4 linked regions of the Homo sapiens genome follow. The protein of the gene in region 1 purifies or fractionates together with the protein of each later gene. This does not show direct contact. Each region holds a gene or a part of one and is shown on either strand. Other genes may lie near its edges.

What was found.
Region 2: the proteins of ITGAD (region 1) and LMAN2 purify together in Homo sapiens (affinity purification with mass spectrometry; one large-scale study listed by BioGRID and IntAct). This does not show direct contact.
Region 3: the proteins of ITGAD (region 1) and JAG2 purify together in Homo sapiens (affinity purification with mass spectrometry; one large-scale study listed by BioGRID and IntAct). This does not show direct contact.
Region 4: the proteins of ITGAD (region 1) and SLC25A19 purify together in Homo sapiens (affinity purification with mass spectrometry; one large-scale study listed by BioGRID and IntAct). This does not show direct contact.

The regions. Positions count from the first base shown.
Region 1 is NC_000016.10:31,398,746-31,404,033, forward strand, and holds part of ITGAD (integrin alpha-D isoform 2 precursor), read left to right. Parts: intron 1-3,369; coding exon 3,370-3,500; intron 3,501-4,754; coding exon 4,755-4,900; intron 4,901-5,288.
Region 2 is NC_000005.10:177,338,169-177,342,561, reverse strand, and holds part of LMAN2 (vesicular integral-membrane protein VIP36 precursor), read left to right. Parts: intron 1-3,956; coding exon 3,957-4,074; intron 4,075-4,393. UniProt on the Homo sapiens protein: Plays a role as an intracellular lectin in the early secretory pathway. Interacts with N-acetyl-D-galactosamine and high-mannose type glycans and may also bind to O-linked glycans.
Region 3 is NC_000014.9:105,162,277-105,166,669, forward strand, and holds part of JAG2 (protein jagged-2 isoform a precursor), read right to left. Parts: intron 1-4,393. UniProt on the Homo sapiens protein: Putative Notch ligand involved in the mediation of Notch signaling. Involved in limb development.
Region 4 is NC_000017.11:75,282,934-75,287,326, reverse strand, and holds part of SLC25A19 (mitochondrial thiamine pyrophosphate carrier), read left to right. Parts: exon of another isoform or gene 1-412; intron 413-524; 5' UTR 525-562; coding exon 563-694; intron 695-867; coding exon 868-1,023; intron 1,024-3,733; coding exon 3,734-3,904; intron 3,905-4,393. UniProt on the Homo sapiens protein: Mitochondrial transporter mediating uptake of thiamine diphosphate into mitochondria. It is not clear if the antiporter activity is affected by the membrane potential or by the proton electrochemical gradient.

The sequences.
Region 1 (5,288 bases):
AGTGTTGGGATGACAGGCATGAGTCCTTGTGCCTGGCCTGAGGGATGAAAGTTCTGATGGAGGCAGAGAGGAGCCCCACTGTGCGGGCTGTAGAGGGCACAGCATCTTCCAGTTGCCAACAGGTGCATGGCCACTTCTTGAGTTTCAGAGGAAGGACCTTAGTGTGGTAAAGAACGTGGTGAGGAAGATAAATCCATGAGGGAGGTGTTTCTTCTGGATGGTTCACTGCTGAGCTTCCAGGATTCCCCAAACTAACTTTCCTCTCGAAGAGGAGCAAATGACAGGGCTGCGGAAAATGCGATGTGCAATTTTGTCAGTGCCCATGTCTTCCACAGAGAACAGGGCCTGGGGACACCACCATGACATCTCTCTGAGGGTTGGTCTGCATCATGGTGGTTCCCAAGTTTGTTTTCCATGGGCACCAGGCTTCATTCCCTTGAAGCTTCATTCCCTCAAAGCCATTCAGTTTCCTCATTGGTAAAATAGAGCTCAATAATCAGGGGGTTATGAAGGTGAAAGGGATTGAGGTGCATAAAGCACTTGGAACCCTGCCTGGCACATAGTATGTGATAGCCCCTCTGACCCATCTTCCAGCTGGGGACTGCATGCTGGGACTGGGAGGAAGATACAGGCAAACTGTCTCATCTGCCGTGTGAGAGGGAATGCCAGGGGCCGCTCAGGGTGCTGACCGAGGGTGGGGCTTCAGACCAGAGAGGCCATGATGACAGGCATGCTGGGCCTTTAGACAAAGGTGGAGCAGCAGCAGAAACATTACCAGAGCAAATGGTGAGGGTGGAGTCTATGGAGGGGACCAAGGGAAGGGGGAAGGGACATCCAGGGTTCTTGGGGGGACCGTGCCCAGCCTGAGATGTCTGTGAAGCCAGGTTAGGGAGGTGGCACTTAAAAACAAGGGGTAAATGTCTTCTCACAGCCATCCGTGGAACTCATGAGGTGGGATGCCTGATGCAAATGGGACTGGAGCACAAAACTGGTGCAGGCAAGGGGGGTGTGGGTCCAAGTAGAAGGGACCAGGGTCCACTGAGGATCACCTGTGTGCCAAGCAGTGCTGAATACCTGGTATGAATCACCTTATTGCATCCTCACAACATCCTGGGTGGCGGGCAGGCCCATTCTCATTTTACAGATATGAAAACCAAGGTTCAGATAGATGAGTTCCATCGATAGCAAGAGGCAGAGCCCAGAGCTTGAGCCATCCTTGCCTGATTGGTGGGGTCCTTTTTCAAAAGGATAAGTCCAGGCTTCTGCTAGTGGGAGACCAGGGGATACAATAAAAAGACCAAGAAACAGAAGAGACATTGTGAGAGGATTTGCCACAGACCTGGCCTGAGAGAGGATGAGAGGGTGGTTTCTTGACGCAGCTGAAAAAACAGGCACCACTGCAAGATGTTGGCTGCCCAGATGTGGGCAAAAAACGGGGAGCTCCTGGGGGGATCTGCAGCCTGCCCCATGGATGTCAAGATTTGCTGGTGATTGAAGAAGCAGGAAGGAAGTGACCTTCTGTTTCTCCCCAGCACCCTTGAAGCACCAGTGGTTGAGCAAGTGGGGTAGGGGAGAGGAAAGAGGAAAAGGCATTTTTTTTTTCTGCAGTGGTGGGCAGGGGGCAGAAACCACAGCCCTGTGGTGTGGGCCTCACACCTTAGTGCTCTGGTGGCCTGATCTCCCAGTGCCCTGCGGGCAGCACAGGATGTGGCTGCTGGTGGAGGTACCAACTGGGCCCTGAACACAGGCCACACACCCCCCATGAGCCTGGGGACAGCATGAAAAGTCTTATTTGTTCATGTGCATATGATGTGCCCTCACGATTGCAGAGTGAACTCCACAAACTCTGAGGTCACTTGGGAATGTTCTTTTTTTTTGAGACGGAGTCTCACTCTGTCGCCCAGGCTGGAGTGCAGTGGCACAATCTTGGCTCACTGCAGCCTCCACCTCCCAGGTTCAAGTGATTCTCCTGCCTCAGCCCCCCAAATAGCTAGGATTACAGGCACCGCCACCATGCCGGGCTAATTTTTTTGTATTTTTAGTAGAGATGGGGTTTCACCATGTTGGCCAGGCTGGTTTTGAACTCCTGACCTCAAGTAATCCGCCCACCTCAGCGTCCCAAAGTGCTAGGATTACAGGCGTGAGCCACCACTCCCAACTGGGAATATTCTTGGGCACCGCACCCATGGGAGCATGAAGGGTGGATGCAATGCAATCATAACAGAGGCCCAAGGTCAGCACTGGGGTGCTTGCCTGTCATCCCAGTGCTTTGGGAGGCCGAGGTGAGTGGATCGTTAGAGCCCAGGAGGTTGAGACCAGCCTGGGCAACATGGCGAAACTCCGTCTCTACAAAAAGATACAAAAATTAGCCAGGCAAGGTGGTGCACACCTGTAGTCCCAGCTACTCAGGAGACTGAGGTGGGAGAATTGCCTGAGCCTGGGGAGGTCGAGGCTGCACTGACCTGTGATCACACCACCACACTCCAGCCTGGGTGACAGTGAGACTCTGCCTCAAAAAAACAAAAAATGAAAAAACCAGAGGCCTCAGCCAATGCCTGGGGGGCTCAGAGTGCAGCTGGCCCTTCAGACGCTGAACCAGTCATCGGTAAAGGTTTCCTCCAGGGGCAGGAGGTGTCCCAGTGGGCAACAGTTCCCCTCTGCCTAGCGTGATTCCTGGGAAGGGACTCAGCTCAGAGCCAACTCCACGTAGCTGGAAATAAGGACCTCTGACCGACTGGGGGTAGGGTGGGGTCTGGGGTGGATCCCTGCCCCACCCCCACAGCATCCCTACAGGCATATCCTACAGGCCTCGAAGGTGCCTGGCACGTGGTGAGAATGGTGCCAGCGGCTGACCCTGGCAGAGGGCCAGGACTTGTCTCCAGCACCCATGTGCGTGTTGCTTTATCCTTGCAGTGATCCCACGTGGTAGCCACTGATATTACCTTCATTTTACAGATAGGGACACTGAAGTCCAGAGAAGTTAAGTAATGTGCCTGAATTCACCAATTAGCACGTGGCTGAGCTGGGGTTTAGCCCAGGCACACTGGCTCCAGAACACGCGCCCTGAACCACTTTGCTAAACATTCGCCCTTGATGCTTGTGGCACCCCTAGCATCTGTGTTTAATGAATATTTGTTGATTAAATGGATGAGGAGCCCACCTGGGTCCTGTGTTGTCATCCCTCTCTTTCCAGGCCATGTGGGAGGAAGGGAGCAGGGGGCTGGGGTGGCAGACTGGGGCCTCCTCCAAGGAGGGGTCGGAAACTAGGTGGGGATGCCAAGAACAGCCCCCGGGCTCTGTTGAGCAGGAGCTGCAGGAGGGGGTTGGGCCCCCGCAGTGCATCTCCGATTCCTCCCCATTCCCCCACAGAGTGTCCACATCAAGAGATGGACATCGTCTTCCTGATTGACGGCTCTGGAAGCATTGACCAAAATGACTTTAACCAGATGAAGGGCTTTGTCCAAGCTGTCATGGGCCAGTTTGAGGGCACTGACACCCTGGTGAAGACTGGGCACCTGGGGCTGGGGTTTGGGGGACGGGGGAGGCTGGCCTCGGGGAGGCATCCCGGGAGGGGTGGGGGCAGGCCAGTGAGCCGTGTGTGATGGGGCTGGGGTGGAGAATGAAGCTATGGTCCCAGCACAGGCCCAACTTGAGCCCTGACCTAGGAGGCCCTCTTGGCATTTAATAATGTATCCAAAAGCTACAGGAAATACAATGTTTCTGCTGTTTAAAAACATTGAAAGTGTTTAAAAAATAATTTTGCTATGGAATTTGACTGACATATTTTCTATGTAACTAATGATTTCTTTTTATTATTTTATTTTCCCATAACTAGTGCCTATGTATGTGCAAAAAAACCCCACTGTTTTGTTTTTTAAACAGGGTCTTGTTCTGTCATCCAGGCTGCAGTGTGGGGGTGCAATCATAGCTCACTGCAGACTTGATCTCCCAGGCTCAAGTGATCCTCTTTCCTCAGCCTCCTGAGTAGATGGGACTACAGGTGCATGCCACCATGCCTGGCTAATTTTTAAAAATTTTTATTGTAGAGATGGGGTCTTGTTATATTGCCCAACCTGGTCTCCAACTCCTGGCTCAAACAACCCTCCCACCTTGGCCTCTCAAAGTGCTGGGATTACAGGCATGAGTCACTACGCCCAGCCACAAATTCTTGAGAAGGGAGGAAATACACAAATTGATTTAATGTGTGATAAAATTTTTAAAAAGCTAAGGGTAGCAAATATTGTGGTTGGCAAAGTTATTTTTAATAAACTGTGAAGGAAATATCATTTGGTTTAGATTTTCCAGTTTATATTTTGTATTTTTGGGCCAATGAATTTTCTTCTCTGGGTTTCAGTATATTATTTGTAGGGCTTCAAAACACATGGGAAATGGTTTGTAAATCCAAAATAATTCCAAAATAAAGTTTATTAAAACTGAAAACAATATGGCTTGGTGTGGTGGCTCACACCTGTAATCCCAGCACTTTGGGAGGCTGAGGTGGGAGTATTGCTTGAGGCCAAGAGTTCGAGACCAGCCTGGGCAACATAGTGAGACCTTGTCTCTACCAAAAACAAAACAAAACAAAAAACAAAGCCAGGCATGTGACGTGTGCCTGTAGTTCCAGCTACTTGGAGGCTGAGGCAGGAGGATCACTTGAGGCCAGGAGTTTGAGAGACCCTGTCTCTACAAAAAATTAAAATAAAAACAATAGTAACAGGCACTGAGCCCTGGGCCCTCCCCACTGGCCTTTGCAGTTTGCACTGATGCAGTACTCAAACCTCCTGAAGATCCACTTCACCTTCACCCAATTCCGGACCAGCCCGAGCCAGCAGAGCCTGGTGGATCCCATCGTCCAACTGAAAGGCCTGACGTTCACGGCCACGGGCATCCTGACAGTGGTGTAAGCAACCCCGACCCCAGCCTGGCGATGTGACTGCCACCCCCACTTCCTAACCCTGGGTCAGCACAGCTCTTCTCAGAGGCTGAGGGAGGCTCCAGGGAAAGGGGCTACCAAGGGGCATGTCGGGGCTGCAGGGAGAACCTCCCCCCGGGGTGCTCCTGGTTGCCTCGCTGCCAGTCTCCCTGATATAGGACTAGGCTCCTCTGCAGCTATGCCTCCCCTTTGCCTGGTTCTGCAGAGCCTGGACCCCAGGACCCCTCCCCACCCCACAGCAGCCAGAGGCCCGGGCTTTGGCTCAGACACATCAGGCTCCCATCCTGGCTCCCCGTGAGCTACTCTGGGTGTAACCCTGGGGTGATGGGCTCTAAGTCTCAGTAACTCTCAGATG
Region 2 (4,393 bases), on another chromosome or scaffold:
GGCATGCGCAGTCAGGCCCAGCTAATTTTTGTATTTTTTTGTAGAGACAGGTTTTCACCGTGTTGCCTGGGCTAGTCTTGAACTTCTGCGCTCTGGTGATCCACCTGCCTCAGCCTCCCAAAGTGTTTCAGATTACAGGTGTGAGCCACTGCAACCGGCCAGGTTTGAGCTCTTAAGTTTAGATCTCTGATCTTTATATACTTATTATTATTTTTTTTTATAGAGATGGAGTCTTGCTGTGTTGCCCAGGCTGGTCTTGAACTCCTTGGCTCAAGCAAACCTCCCATGATGGCCTCCCAAGGTGCTGGGACTACAGGTATGAGCTACTGCACCTGGCCTCTTTACTTTTCAAATTAAACTTTTTATTTTGACATAATTATAAATTCACATGCCGTTGCAGGAAATAATACAGAGATCCTAGGTGCCCTTGGGTTTTGTTTTTTTATTTAGCATTTAGTCCATTTACATTTAATGAAATATGATACATTTGGGTTTAATCTGCTATCTTACTCTATATATTCAAATTGCCTATTCTCTGTTCATTTTTCTCTCTAGTCTTCTTTTAGGTTAATTTTTATTATCCTATTTTTCCTCTTCTATTAGCTTGAAAGTTATATGCTCTTTTCTCAGTTTTAAGTGGTCACCCTAGAATTTAAAGCAGGCATTCATGTTGTACCAAAGACTAATGATAATGTGTACTTTACCTTCTTCCTGGACAGTGCAAGGATCCTAACACACTTTAACTCCATTTATTGTTGTCATTTGTTTTAATTATTTCTGTTTTAAATCACACAACCCATTGTTTTGTGCAGTCAGATATTTAGATTTTCACCCTTATAGTCACTGTATTTGTTGTTCTTCGTTCCTTCTGGAATCTGACTTTACATCTGGATGGGGATCATTTTCTTTCTCCCTGAAGAATGAAAGTGTGAGTCTGCTAATGAATTCTTTTGGTTTTTGTTTGTTTGTCTCAAAATATCTTTATTTTACCTTCATTCTTGAAGGATACATTTGCTGAGTATAGAATCCCATGCTGGCTGTTACCTTCCTGTATCTCCAAACATATCAGTCATCTGCCTTCTTGCTCCCGCTGTTCCCGCCGTGAAGCCGGGTGTCAGGCTGATTATTGCTCCTGTGAGAGTCATTGCCTTTTTTCCCTCTGGTTCCTTTTTCTTTAAGATTATTATTTTTTTTATGGCCGGGCGCGGTGGCTCACGCCTGTAATCCCAGCACTTTGGGAGGCCGAGACGGGCGGATCACCTTAGGTCGGGAGTTCAAGACCAGCCTGACCAACATGGAGAAACCCCGTCTCTACTAAAAATACAAAATTAGCCAGGCGTAGTGGCGCATGCCTGTAATCCCAGCTCCTCAGGAGGCTGAGGCAGGAGAATCGCTTGAACCCAGGAGGCAGAGGTTGCAGTGAGCCAAGATCACGCCATTGCACTCCAGCCTGGGCAACAAGAGCGAAACTCTGTCTCACAAAAAAAAAAAAAAAAAGAAAAAAAAAGGCTGGGCGTGGTGGCTCACATCTGTAATCTCAGCACTTTGGGAGGCTGAGGTGGGCGGATCACAAGGTCAGGAGATCGTGACCATCCTGGCTAACACGGTGAAACCCTGTCTCTACTAAAAATACAAAAAAATTAGCCGGGTGTGGTGGCGGGCGCCTGTAGTCCCAACTACTGGGGAGGCTGAGGCAGGAGAATGGCGTGAACCCGGGAGGCAGAGCTCGCAGTGAGCAGAGATTGTGCCACTGCACTCCAGCCTGGGCGACAGAGTGAGTCTGATTTTTTTTGAGAAAGAGTCTCACTCTGTTGCCCAGGCTGGAATGCAGTGGCACAATCTCGGCTCACTGCAACCTCCACCTCCCAGATTCAAGCAGTTCTCCCGCCTCAGCCTCCCAAGTAGCTGGAATTACAGGCATGTACCACCACGCCTGGCTAATTTTTGTATTTTTAGTAGAGACGGGGTTTCACCATGTTGGCCAGGCTGGCCTCAACCTCAAGTGATCCACCTGCCTCAGCCTCCCAAAGTGCTGAGATTACAGGCGTGAGCCACTGCACCCGGCCAAGATTCTCTGTTTTTAAGGAGAACAATAGACACTCCAGACTAGATGGGGGAGGACGTGGGTTGAAAAACTACCTATTGGGTACTGTTCTCCCTGCCTGGGTGCAGTATACCCATGTAACCTGCACATGTAGCCCCTGTATCTAAAATAAAAGTTGAAATTGAAAAGAAAGAAAAAATGCTTTTGTGGCACACGTTCTCAGGATTGCCTGGGGCTGTACCACGGGGAAAAAAATTAGAAAAAAATAGTTTCATGTTAAAAAAAACTTTTTTGTTGTTGTTGCTGTTTCCTCTATCCCTCCCTTCTTTTTTTGTGCCTAAATATGGTTTTCTTTTTAGTCATCTCCTTTGGTTTGTAGGACTTTTCAAGTTTGTGGCGTGTCTTTGAATCAGTTTTAGTAAGTGCTTAGACGTCTTTAAATATTCCTTTGCCTTCATTTCTCACATCTTACTCGGGAATCCCAATTATATGAGTCTTAGCCTCTCTCACTGTTTCCTCTGTCTCTTACCCACAATTCTATATCTTCCATTCTTTTGTGCTCTCGGGGACTCGGCCTAGGTTTTGTTATCTGGGTTCCTGGTGCCCAGAGTGGGAGCAGTGAGTCTGTGGCATCAATGAATGCATGAAGCATATTGCTCAAATTGGGGTACAGTGTTTTTTATTTTTCTGTGATCACAGAAGTAATATGTTTATTATACATTATTCAAACATGGTAAACAGTCGCCATAATCCCCCTCCCAGAATTACCCATCATTAATACTGGTTCATGTTCCTTTACTCCTGTATTCATTTCTCTTCATGCTCATCTGCATTGGACGTTAATGGTCTTTTTCACAGTTGCCAGTCTGACAGGTCAACATCCTGTTTGGGTTTGCCTTTGTGATGGGTCTTTGTTTAATCACTTGCTTACATACCCATCTGCAGACTTCCTGAAAGTGGATTCTTGTCACCGTGTGTGTTGACACCTTAGTTTTCACAAGCGACTTCCTGATGCCTAAGGCAAGGCTTTCTCCCTTGGCGTAGGCGGTGCCCATCCCTGCCCCAGCTCACATGGTGGTGCCCTTGAGTCCCAGAGCACGACCCTGACCAGCTCTCATCCCCAGCGCTGGTACCACACTTAGGCTGGGCTGGGGAGGTGAACTGGTGAAGGGCTGGGTTTTGGAGTCAGCCAGACCTGGGCTTGAGGCCAGCAGCACTGACCCGGCCTGATTTTCCTCACTTGGGAAGGTTGGTTAGCAGGGTGGATGTGGCAGTGGATGTGGGTGACCAGAAAGGGGCTGGTGCAATTTATGTGAAAGGCCTGCAGGCCGCGGGAAGTACTGAAGGCAGAGCAGAGCTCTCGGAGTCAGAAAACCCTGCATGTGAATCCAGACAGTCCGCTGAGCAGAGCTCTCGGAGTCAGAAAGCCCTGCGCGTGAGTCCAGACAGTCCACTGAGCTGCTCTGGACAAGTTGTTACACCTCTGAATTTGTTTTCCTGTAAAATACTTTGCTCAAATAGGAGTTGTAACGTCTGCAGAAGGTTCCAGGGCAAGAGCAGTGGATGGAGAGGAAATGGCTGGTGGGTTTGGCTGGTAATGAGGGTGAACAGTGTGGCAGCCACCTAAACCTACTCAGGAGCAGCCTGAGGTCTGCTGGCGGGGTCTGGGCCTCAGGCAGCCTTGGAACACTGGCCTCCCCCACCTCACCTGGTGCCCAACAGTCTCTTCCCTTCACGGCCAGAACATTTAGGGGTCTGTGGTCAGTGGCACTTGTGGCCCTGTGCCAAGGAGTGCCCAGTCTTAGCTGGGGAGAGAAGAGAGGTCTGTGGGGCAGGGGCCGTGCTGGGGTTGCCTCCAGCTTGCTGGAAGGCCCTGGGGAGCTCTGAGCAGCCCATTCTGCTCTCCCTCCAGCCGTGCTTCCTCAAAGACTGGGAAATGCACGTCCACTTCAAAGTCCACGGCACAGGGAAGAAGAACCTCCATGGAGACGGCATCGCCTTGTGGTACACCCGGGACCGCCTCGTGCCAGGTGGGCTGGTGTTCGCTCAGCTGGGCCCTGTGGGGGTGGGCACGGGCATGGCTGCTGGCCCCCTAGGGAGGTGGGGTGGGGCTGCCTGTGGCTCGTGGGGACCAGCGTCTCCTCTCCTGTTAGGAAAGTGCTGCCTCCCGTGGATAAAGTCCTGCGCCTCCGGAAGGAGCCTGGCTCTGGAAGGAAGGTCACTGAGGGGAGAGGAGCAGCTGGGTCCTGCAGCTCAACCCTACACCCTCATTGGCCTGGTTTTACCATTTTAAACAGTTATTGTTGTAAAAAAGCCAAAACATGAAGACTGTGTGGCTGTGACTGCATG
Region 3 (4,393 bases), on another chromosome or scaffold:
CTGACCCACCCCCACCGCACAAGCAGACCCGCAGCCCAACTTCATCTCCCACCATCTGATTGCCTCCTCCCCAGCCCGAACCCTCAAGGCTAAGTCTAAACCCCTCCTCCTGTCCCCAGGCAGGGGCAACAGCAGTGGCACAAGCCAGAGGACAGGCAGACAAGACAATAGATGTTCCACCCCAGGCCAGGGCACCTCAAAGCCCAGGGTACCCCAGGTCCAGGGCACCCCAAAGCCCAGAGTATCCCACAGCCCAGGGCACTGCATGGCCCAGCATACTCCAAGACCCAGGGCACCCCAGTTCCAGGGCACCCCAAAGCCCAGGGTACCCCAGAGCCCCAAAGCACTGCATGGCCCAGCACACCCCAAGGTCCAGGGCACCTTAAAGCCCAGGACACCTCAGGTCCAAGGCACCCAAAGTACAGAGTACCCTCCTGCCCAGGGCACCCTAGATCCAGTACACCCCACAGCCTTGTGCACCCCATGGCCCAGTGTACCCACAGTCCAGGGCACCCCAAAGCTCAGGGCACTCCAGGTCCAGGGCACCCCCAGCCCAGGGCACTGCATGGCCCAGCACACCTCATGGCCCAGGGTACTCCAAATGCCAAGCACCCTAAGTCCACGGCACCCCACTGCCCACTGTACCCCAATCTACAGCATCCCAAAACTCAGGCAACCCAAGTCTAGGGCCCTGCACGGTCAAGGCCAACACAGCCTCCCTGCTGCCCCGCTAACGGCCCCCCCAGGTCCAGGGCCCTGCACGGTCCAGGCCAACACAACACAGCCTCCTAGACCTGCTGCCCCACCAACGCCCCGACTTGGTTTCTTCTCCTCGGCCTCCCGCATCAGCCTCCCGCCCCCTACGGAGCACAGCGCTTGGTGCAGGCGCCAGGAGCTCCAAGCACAGATACATTTCCTGAAACCTGAGCTTCTGAGAGGCCCAGGCCTCTGCCACCATTGTCACCCGAGGCAGGGAAGAAGGGGTGGGGGCAAACACCATCCCCAGGGCTCTGGGCCCCAGGGCCGCAGCAGGAGGAGCAGACCAAAGCCCATCCCACGCAGGAACACACACACCCATGCTCCACACCAGAGACCAGCCAGGGCCTTGCCTGGGTGTACCCCCACTCCCCAGCACACCCCCTCTAGGTCCCAGGTCCCCCACCGTGAAGACGGTGGCAGCCAGGGCCGGCTAGCACCTGCCACAAAGCCCAGGGTACAACTGATGCCAGCCACACCCTGCTCAGGCCTGGGATGTGGGGATAGGAATCCCGCTCAGGCCTGTGGTCTGGGGACAGGGACTCCGCTCAGGCCTGTGGTCTGGGGACAGGGCCTCCGCTCAGGCCTGTGGTCTTGAGGACAGGGACTCCGCTCAGGCCTGTGGTCTGGGGACAGTGACCTCACTCAGATCTGGGGTCTGGGGACAGGGACCCTGCTTAGGCCTCAGGTCTGCAGACAGGGACCCTGCTCAGTCCTGGGACCTGGGGACAGGGACCCAGCTCAGGCCTGGGGCCTGAGGATAGGGGCCCCACTCAGGCCTGGGGTCTAGGGACAGGGACTCCAATCAGGCCTAGGGTCTGGGGACAGGGACCCCGCTCAGGCCTGGGGTCTGGGGATAGCGACTGTGGCTGGGGCCTGGGATTGCAGATCCTTGTCTTCCTGCCCCCACTCCACCACCAGCAGCAGCTCAGGCCGAAGCCTGGCTCCACAAGCACCCCTTCACTGGCCTAGCTTGCTCCCCTCATAAAGACACCATGGAGCAGCCCAGGAGGGCCCCTGAGAGCAGCAGTCCCCTCCCACCCAGGCCTGCCGCCTGCTCCCCAACCCGCCCCTCCACCTCCCAGCCTTCCTATCGTGCTGCGGCTTTGACCCTTCAGCCCACCCTCAGGGACCAGCGACAAACCCCCAGCCCACTCTCCAATCCTCCCTGGCCAAGGGCAGTCCTCCCTGGCTCCAATGGTCCCCGTGTTGCCTGGGCACTGAATGCCCCACCCTGCCCCCATACCAAAGCTTTGAACCAGACCCCCAATGTACAAGGCGGACATGCCCTGAGTTCTCCCCAGGGCTCTGGGCCCCAGGGCCATGGCAGGAGGAACAGACCGATGCCCACCCAACACAGGAACCCAGATGCCCACATTCCATACCAGACCAGCCAGCTCTCCTGGTCCCTACTGGGAAGGTGTGGGAAGGAGGGGGGTGGTCCCCAGTGTGCAGACAGGATCCCCTGAAGGTAGGGTGGGGAGGCCAGGGCCCTGTCATCCCCAGCCCAAGCTCAGAAAAAACAGGAAGCAGAGTGGTGCTGAACCTCACACCTGCCACGAGCAGCTTAGGTAGCTCCAGGCACAGACCTCAGCCTGGCCCACCTTGAGCCCTAGGGCGGCTGGATGCAGGGGGTGGGCTCTGTAAAAACCTTCCTCCCTAGGGGGCAAAGGAGAGGGTAGGGAAGGCTGGGAAGGGGAGGAACTGGACAGGTCTGGGAGCCGGGCTGGGGGCACAAGCAGAGCCCGAGCTGGGAGTCCAGCAGCCCCATCTGACTTCGTGAGACCTGCAATGAAAAAGCGGCAGTGTGCCCCTTTCACAGGTGAGAAAAGCTCAGCCCTTCTGATGGCCCAGGACCTCAGGCCTCCTGAGCTGATAGACGCAGGGTCAGCCCCAGGCCCACCTCCTGTATCTACAGGGCCTTCACCCATCCCGTTCTCCTCATAAGCCCAGATCTGTCACGGGGACCATGCTCCAGCCACACCACCCCGCACAGCTGCCCTGGAGCCCAGCACACACATGCCAAGACAGAACAAGAAAGACCCTCGCTGGCAGGCAGGCTCCTGGGCTCCTGGCTCCAGAGATGGGCCAGCCAGGCAGGCACGACTTCCAGCTGCACCTCTGAGGGTGGGGCCCTGGCTGCCCAGGTCACGGCCAACTGCCACCACCCTGCTCCTCCCTCAGCCAGCAGGTGTCCCCTGGGCCTGCCACCTACCAGGCCCCAGAGCAAAGCTCCCTGCTGCCCCCAGCATGACACTACTCCTCCCCAAACCTCCATCACCACCTGCCATGCCTACAGAGCACCCGGGGTGCGTGCACACACGCAGCTGGGAGAATGTGGCCTCACCCTGCCAGCTACAAGCCAGGCACCAGAACCAACCCAGGCTGACACCGGCCTCCTGGGGACGTCTGGGGGTGGAGCCAGGAGAGGAGGGGCAGCCAGGCAGCCTGCTGGCATGTGGTCCACCACCTCTCCACATTCAAGACCCTGGGCCCACCCACTGAGGGAAGCTGAGCCCGAGACCAGCACAGATCCATGACTAATAGCACACAGACCCCGGCCACAAGAAGCCAGGCCAGGGGGCAGAGGGCCACCCAGCCAGGCCTGGGTCAACAGCAGAGACCACAAGGTGGGAGAGTCACTCAGGGGGCAGGGGGTGGAGGGAGCGAATGCAGAGCCCAGACTCCCCCACTCCTCTTCCACAAGGCCCTCTCATTCCCTTTACTCCAAGGAGCCCAAAAGCCCCACGGGCCTGGGCAGGATGCCACCCTAGCCTCCAGGCTGAAACCCCTCCTCAGGTCCCAGGGAGCCTGAACTCGGTCCTTGCCTTCCCATCACAGCCAAGTACACCTCAGCTCACCGCACAGAGCTGGACCTCAGCAAGCCAGGGCAGCATGGCCAGGGACTGCCGCCGCCCGAGTGCAAATACCAGGGTGCTGGCATCACGGCACAGCTCCCGCCCGGCAGCCAGGCCACATGGCAGGAGACCAGGGCTGCCCCCAAACACGCAGCTATGACTCTGCCCTGGCCCCCAACCCAGAGACAGGCCGCCTGCCCCCTCCTGGGGCATTCGAGGAACCGGCTGGAAGCAAGAGGCAGGGAGGTGAGCTGGCCCCGAAACCCAGTGCCCGGACTCCAAGGAAGGCAAGGGCCTACCCGGTCCCATCCCACACCTGACCGGCTGGCCCGCGGGGCGAAGAGCCAGGGCGGACACGCGATAGCCCGCCACATTCCTCCAAGACCTCCCTGCCCCCACACCCACTGCTGCCAACTCGAGCAGAAAACACATCCTCAGGTAGCGATGTGGGGCCACGCTGGCTCAGGCCCAGGTGCAGATGACAGGCTGCGGGCCCTGCTCAGACCTGCCTGCTGCACCGCCGTGGGGGCGAGGGGCTGGGCTTCTCACAACTGCCTGGGCCCTCCCATGCCCGCCCCTGCCTTTTCCATCTGGGGGACACTTTCCCCTCTCTGGGGCCCCCCTGGTCAAGGGATACTCGGCGGGGTGCTCACGGGTTGAGGACATGGCCAGAGGAGACTGTGGCCAGCTTCCACGGGTGGGAGCTCAGGAAGCGGTGAGGATGGGGGCAGCAGGCAAGGCTGCCAGCCAGGGCTGCAAAGGTACAGCACAGGACTGGG
Region 4 (4,393 bases), on another chromosome or scaffold:
TCGAGACCAGCCAGGGCAACATTGAGACCTTATCTCTACAAAAATAAAAAACTTAGCCAGGCCTGCACCTGTTAAGTGACAGCTAATTGGGAGGCTGAGGCAAGAGAATCACTTGAGCCCAGGAGTTCAAGGCTATGGTGAGTTATGATGGCACCACTGCATTCCAGCCTGGGCAACAGAGTGAGACCCTGTCTCTAAAAAAGTAAACAAATATGCCATAGTAATAAGTACTGTAAAGAGGAATAAAACAAGTGCTATTTTATTTTATTTTTAAATTTTTGTATTTTTTGTAGAGTTGGGGTTTTGCAGTGTTGCCCAGGCTGGTCTTGAACTCCTGAGCTCAAGCAATCCACCCACCTCGGCCTCCGAAAGTGCTGGGATACAGGCATGAACCGCTGCGCCCAGTCCAAAAGTGAGTGCTATTTTAGACAGTCTAGTCAGGGAGGGCTGCTCTGAGGAGGTGATATTTGAGCAGAGACCATAAGAAACTTGCCTGGTGTTTATTCCGTATCTCTTGCATTTAGCTTGATACTGATGGACATTGTGTGGGCCAGAGGCAGGGATGGTTGGCTATGACCCCAAACCAGATGGCAGGAATAACACCAAGTTCCAGGTGGCAGTGGCTGGGTCTGTGTCTGGACTTGTTACTCGGGCGCTGATCAGTCCCTTCGACGTCATCAAGATCCGTTTCCAGGTACTCTTCCCCTTTTTCCATGCAATGGACTGGAGGACAAGTTCAGTCTTTCTTGCAAAAGCAGTTCCTAAAACTTGGAATTCTATCCAGATGAAGGGCTTGCCTTTTCTGAAAGTTCCCCTTCACATTCCAGCCCACCCCACTGTCCTGACCTTTTTTATTTTGATTCCTAGCTTCAGCATGAGCGCCTGTCTCGCAGTGACCCCAGCGCAAAGTACCATGGCATCCTCCAGGCCTCTAGGCAGATTCTGCAGGAGGAGGGTCCGACAGCTTTCTGGAAAGGACACGTCCCAGCTCAGATTCTCTCCATAGGCTATGGAGCTGTCCAAGTAGGTGGCAAGGGACCTGGCCAGACCTCTGGGGTCACGTTGCTCAGTGGAGGAGCAGAGGGAGGGTGAGGCAAGCAGGAATGCCGCGCAGGGCAGGACGGAAGAGGCAGGCCCCACGCTTCCCACCTGCCTCACCCGGGAGCCTTCCTGACCAGCAGTACCGTAGGCATTGCCCTCCGCCATGTCCCTGCGTCTATCCTGTGTGACTTAGGTGTTGCATCTTGGAGACCGATTTGATGTCATGCCTTCTGTGAGGCTTGGCGAAGGACAGCACTAATGCATTTCAGTTTTTGAAATACCACCTTCACATATGTGGTTCATCTGAACTTCACCACACCGTCATGAGGAGGGCAGGGTAGCTGTCATGTGGATCTCAGGGAGGAGAAGTCAGCTGTCCGAGGCCACACAGCCTGCACATGGCGGGGCTAGGGTTAGAACTCATGCTTCGTTCAGTGGAGCACTAGTATAGTCATAGTGCACAGCATGTGATTTTATGCAGTAGATGTGTTTAAGAACCAGCCCTGTACAGTGCAAACCATGGGCCAGGCCCCTGTTGGAAGCACTTCACATACACTCTGTCACAGCAGTCCTTAAGGTAGGGGCTGTTGTCCCTCCCATGTCATGCATGAGAAGACTGAGGTGGACAGAGCTTACATAATTAACCCAACCAAAGCCACTGGCTAGAAAATGGCAGAGCCACGACCCCCACCTAGGCAGCTAGTGCCAGAGATGTCCCTTCCTACTCTTCCTGTGACATCACAGTGACCGCCCAAGTCAGGTGCTTACTGGCTGGGCATGCCCTGCGATCCTGTCTCTGCACTTGTCTGCAAACAGATATTGCAGCATGACGAATAAATACAGCAACAGGATAGTCTCAAGAAGCCAGGCGTGGGCTGGACTCAGTGGCTCACACCTGTAATCCCAGCATCTGAGCCCGGGAGGCGGAGGCTGCAGTGAGCCACGATCATGCCACTGCACTTCAGCCTGGGCAACACAGCCAGACCCTGTCTCAAAAAAAGAAAAGAAGCCAGGCCATCTTCAGTTGGCTGAAGGAAGATCTGAGCATAGCCCTGGTATAGTGGCTCACACCTGTAATCCCATCACTTTGGGAGGCTGAGGTGGGAGGATGGCTTGAGCTCAGGAGTTTGAGACCAGCCTGGGCAACATTAGGGAGACCTCCTCTCTACTAAAAATAAAAAATAAATTAGCCAGATATGGTGGTACACACCTGTCGTCCCAGCTATTCCAGAGGCAGGAGAATAATTTGAGCTAGAGAAGTCAAGGCTGCTGTGAACTGTGATCGAGCCACTGCACTCCAGCCTGGGCAACTGAGCACGACCTTGCCTCAAAAAGCAAAACAGGGCCAAGCTCGGTGGCTCATGTGTGTAATCTCAGCCCTTTGGGAGCCCAAGGCGGGCAGATTGCTTGAGCTCAGGAGTTTGAGACCAGCCTTGGCAACATAGTGAAACCCTGGTTCTACAAAAAATACCAAAATTAGCTGGACATGGTGGCATGCGCCTGTAATCCCAGCTACTTGAGGAGCTGAGGTGAGAGGATCACTGGAGCCCAGGAGGTTGAGGCTGCAGTGAGCCGTGTTTGTGCCACTGTACTCCAGCCTGGGTGACAGAGAGACACTCTTGTCCCTAAAAAAAAAAAAAAAAAAAAAAAAAGAAAGATCTGAATGTAAGGGGGTCACCCTGTGGAACATGCTCCCAAAAGAATCTGCCCCAGAAAAGAATGATTCTCGAACAGTGCCGCCACCAGGTGCCGCCGCCAGCTGCACTGAAGGGGTCCCTGCAGGAATCAGAGCATGGCCGTCTTCCCCAGTTCTCAGAAAACTAAGTTAGCCAGTGACATTTTCTGATATACATTGTTCTCATGTATCTTTTTTATTTTTTCTTGAGACAGAGTCTCACTCTGTTGCCCAGGCTGGAGTGCAGTGGCGCAATCTCAGCTCACTGCAACCTCCGCCTCCTGGGTTCAGGCGATTCTTCTGCCTCAGCCTCCCAAGTAGCTGGGGTTACAGGCCCACGCCACCATGCCTGGCTAATTTTTGTATTTTTAGTAGAGACAGGGTTCCACCATATTGGCCAGGCTGGTCTCCAACTCCTGACCTCATGATCTGCCCACCTCGGCCTTCCAAAGTGCTGGGATTACAGGCGTGGGCCACTGCACCCAGTCTTTTTTTTGAGACCGAGTCTTGCTCTGTCGCCCGGGCTGGAGAGCGCAGTGGCATGATCTTGGCTCAGTGCAGCTCTGCCTCCCGGGTTCAAGTGATTCTCCTGCCTCAGCCCCCCAAGTACCTGGGACTACAGGTGCCCGCCACCATGCCTGACTAATTTTTGTATTTTTAGTAAAGACAGGGTTTCACTATGTTGACCCGGCTGGTCTCGAACTTGTGACCTCGTGATCTGCCCGCCTCGGCCCCCCAGAGTGCTGGGATTACAAGTGTGAGCCACTGCACCTGGCCCCCATATATCTTCTTAACCCTTTGAGTGTCTGACTCTACTCAAGTATCAAATGGCATCCGAGTTTTGCGTAGAATGTTGTATTTATCATATGCTGTCACTGCTCAAGAAGAACATTTCCTGACCTTTTCCTCGCCCCTCCACCTGGGCCCCAGCCGGGTCACGGGTGATGTATTTGGGGAGTATTTGGTCCTCACCCTCATCCTTTGGGCTGTCGGTGACTTCTTCACTTACTCTTGCAGTTCTTGTCATTTGAAATGCTGACGGAGCTGGTCCACAGAGGCAGCGTGTATGACGCCCGGGAATTCTCAGTGCACTTTGTATGTGGTGGCCTGGCTGCCTGTATGGCCACCCTCACTGTGCACCCCGTGGATGTTCTGCGCACCCGCTTTGCAGCTCAGGGTGAGCCCAAGGTGAGTGGCCAGGAGCCAGACCGGGGAAGCCCAAATAAGGAAGGTGTTGTCACAGGGGTAGCATTCTTTATTTTTTATTTATTTATTTATTTATTTTTGTTTTGTTCTGTTTTGTTTTGTTTGAGACAGAATCTCGCTCTGTCATGCAGGCTGGAGTGCAGTGGTGCGATCTTGGCTTACTGCAAGCTCCACCTCCCGAGTTCAAGCGATTCTCCTGCCTCAGCCTCCCGAGTAGCTGGGATTACAGGCACCCGCCACCACGCCTGGCTAATTTTTTTTGTATTTTTAGTAGAGACGGGGTTTCACCATGTTAGCCAGGATGGTCTCGATCTCCTGACCTCACGATCCGCCCGCCTCGGCCTCCCAAAGTGCTAGGATTACAGGCATGAGCCACTGCGCCCGGCCTATTTTTTATTTATTTATTTATTTATTTTGAGACAGAGTCTCGCTCTGTTGCCAGGCTGGAGTGCAGTGGTGCGATCTATTTTT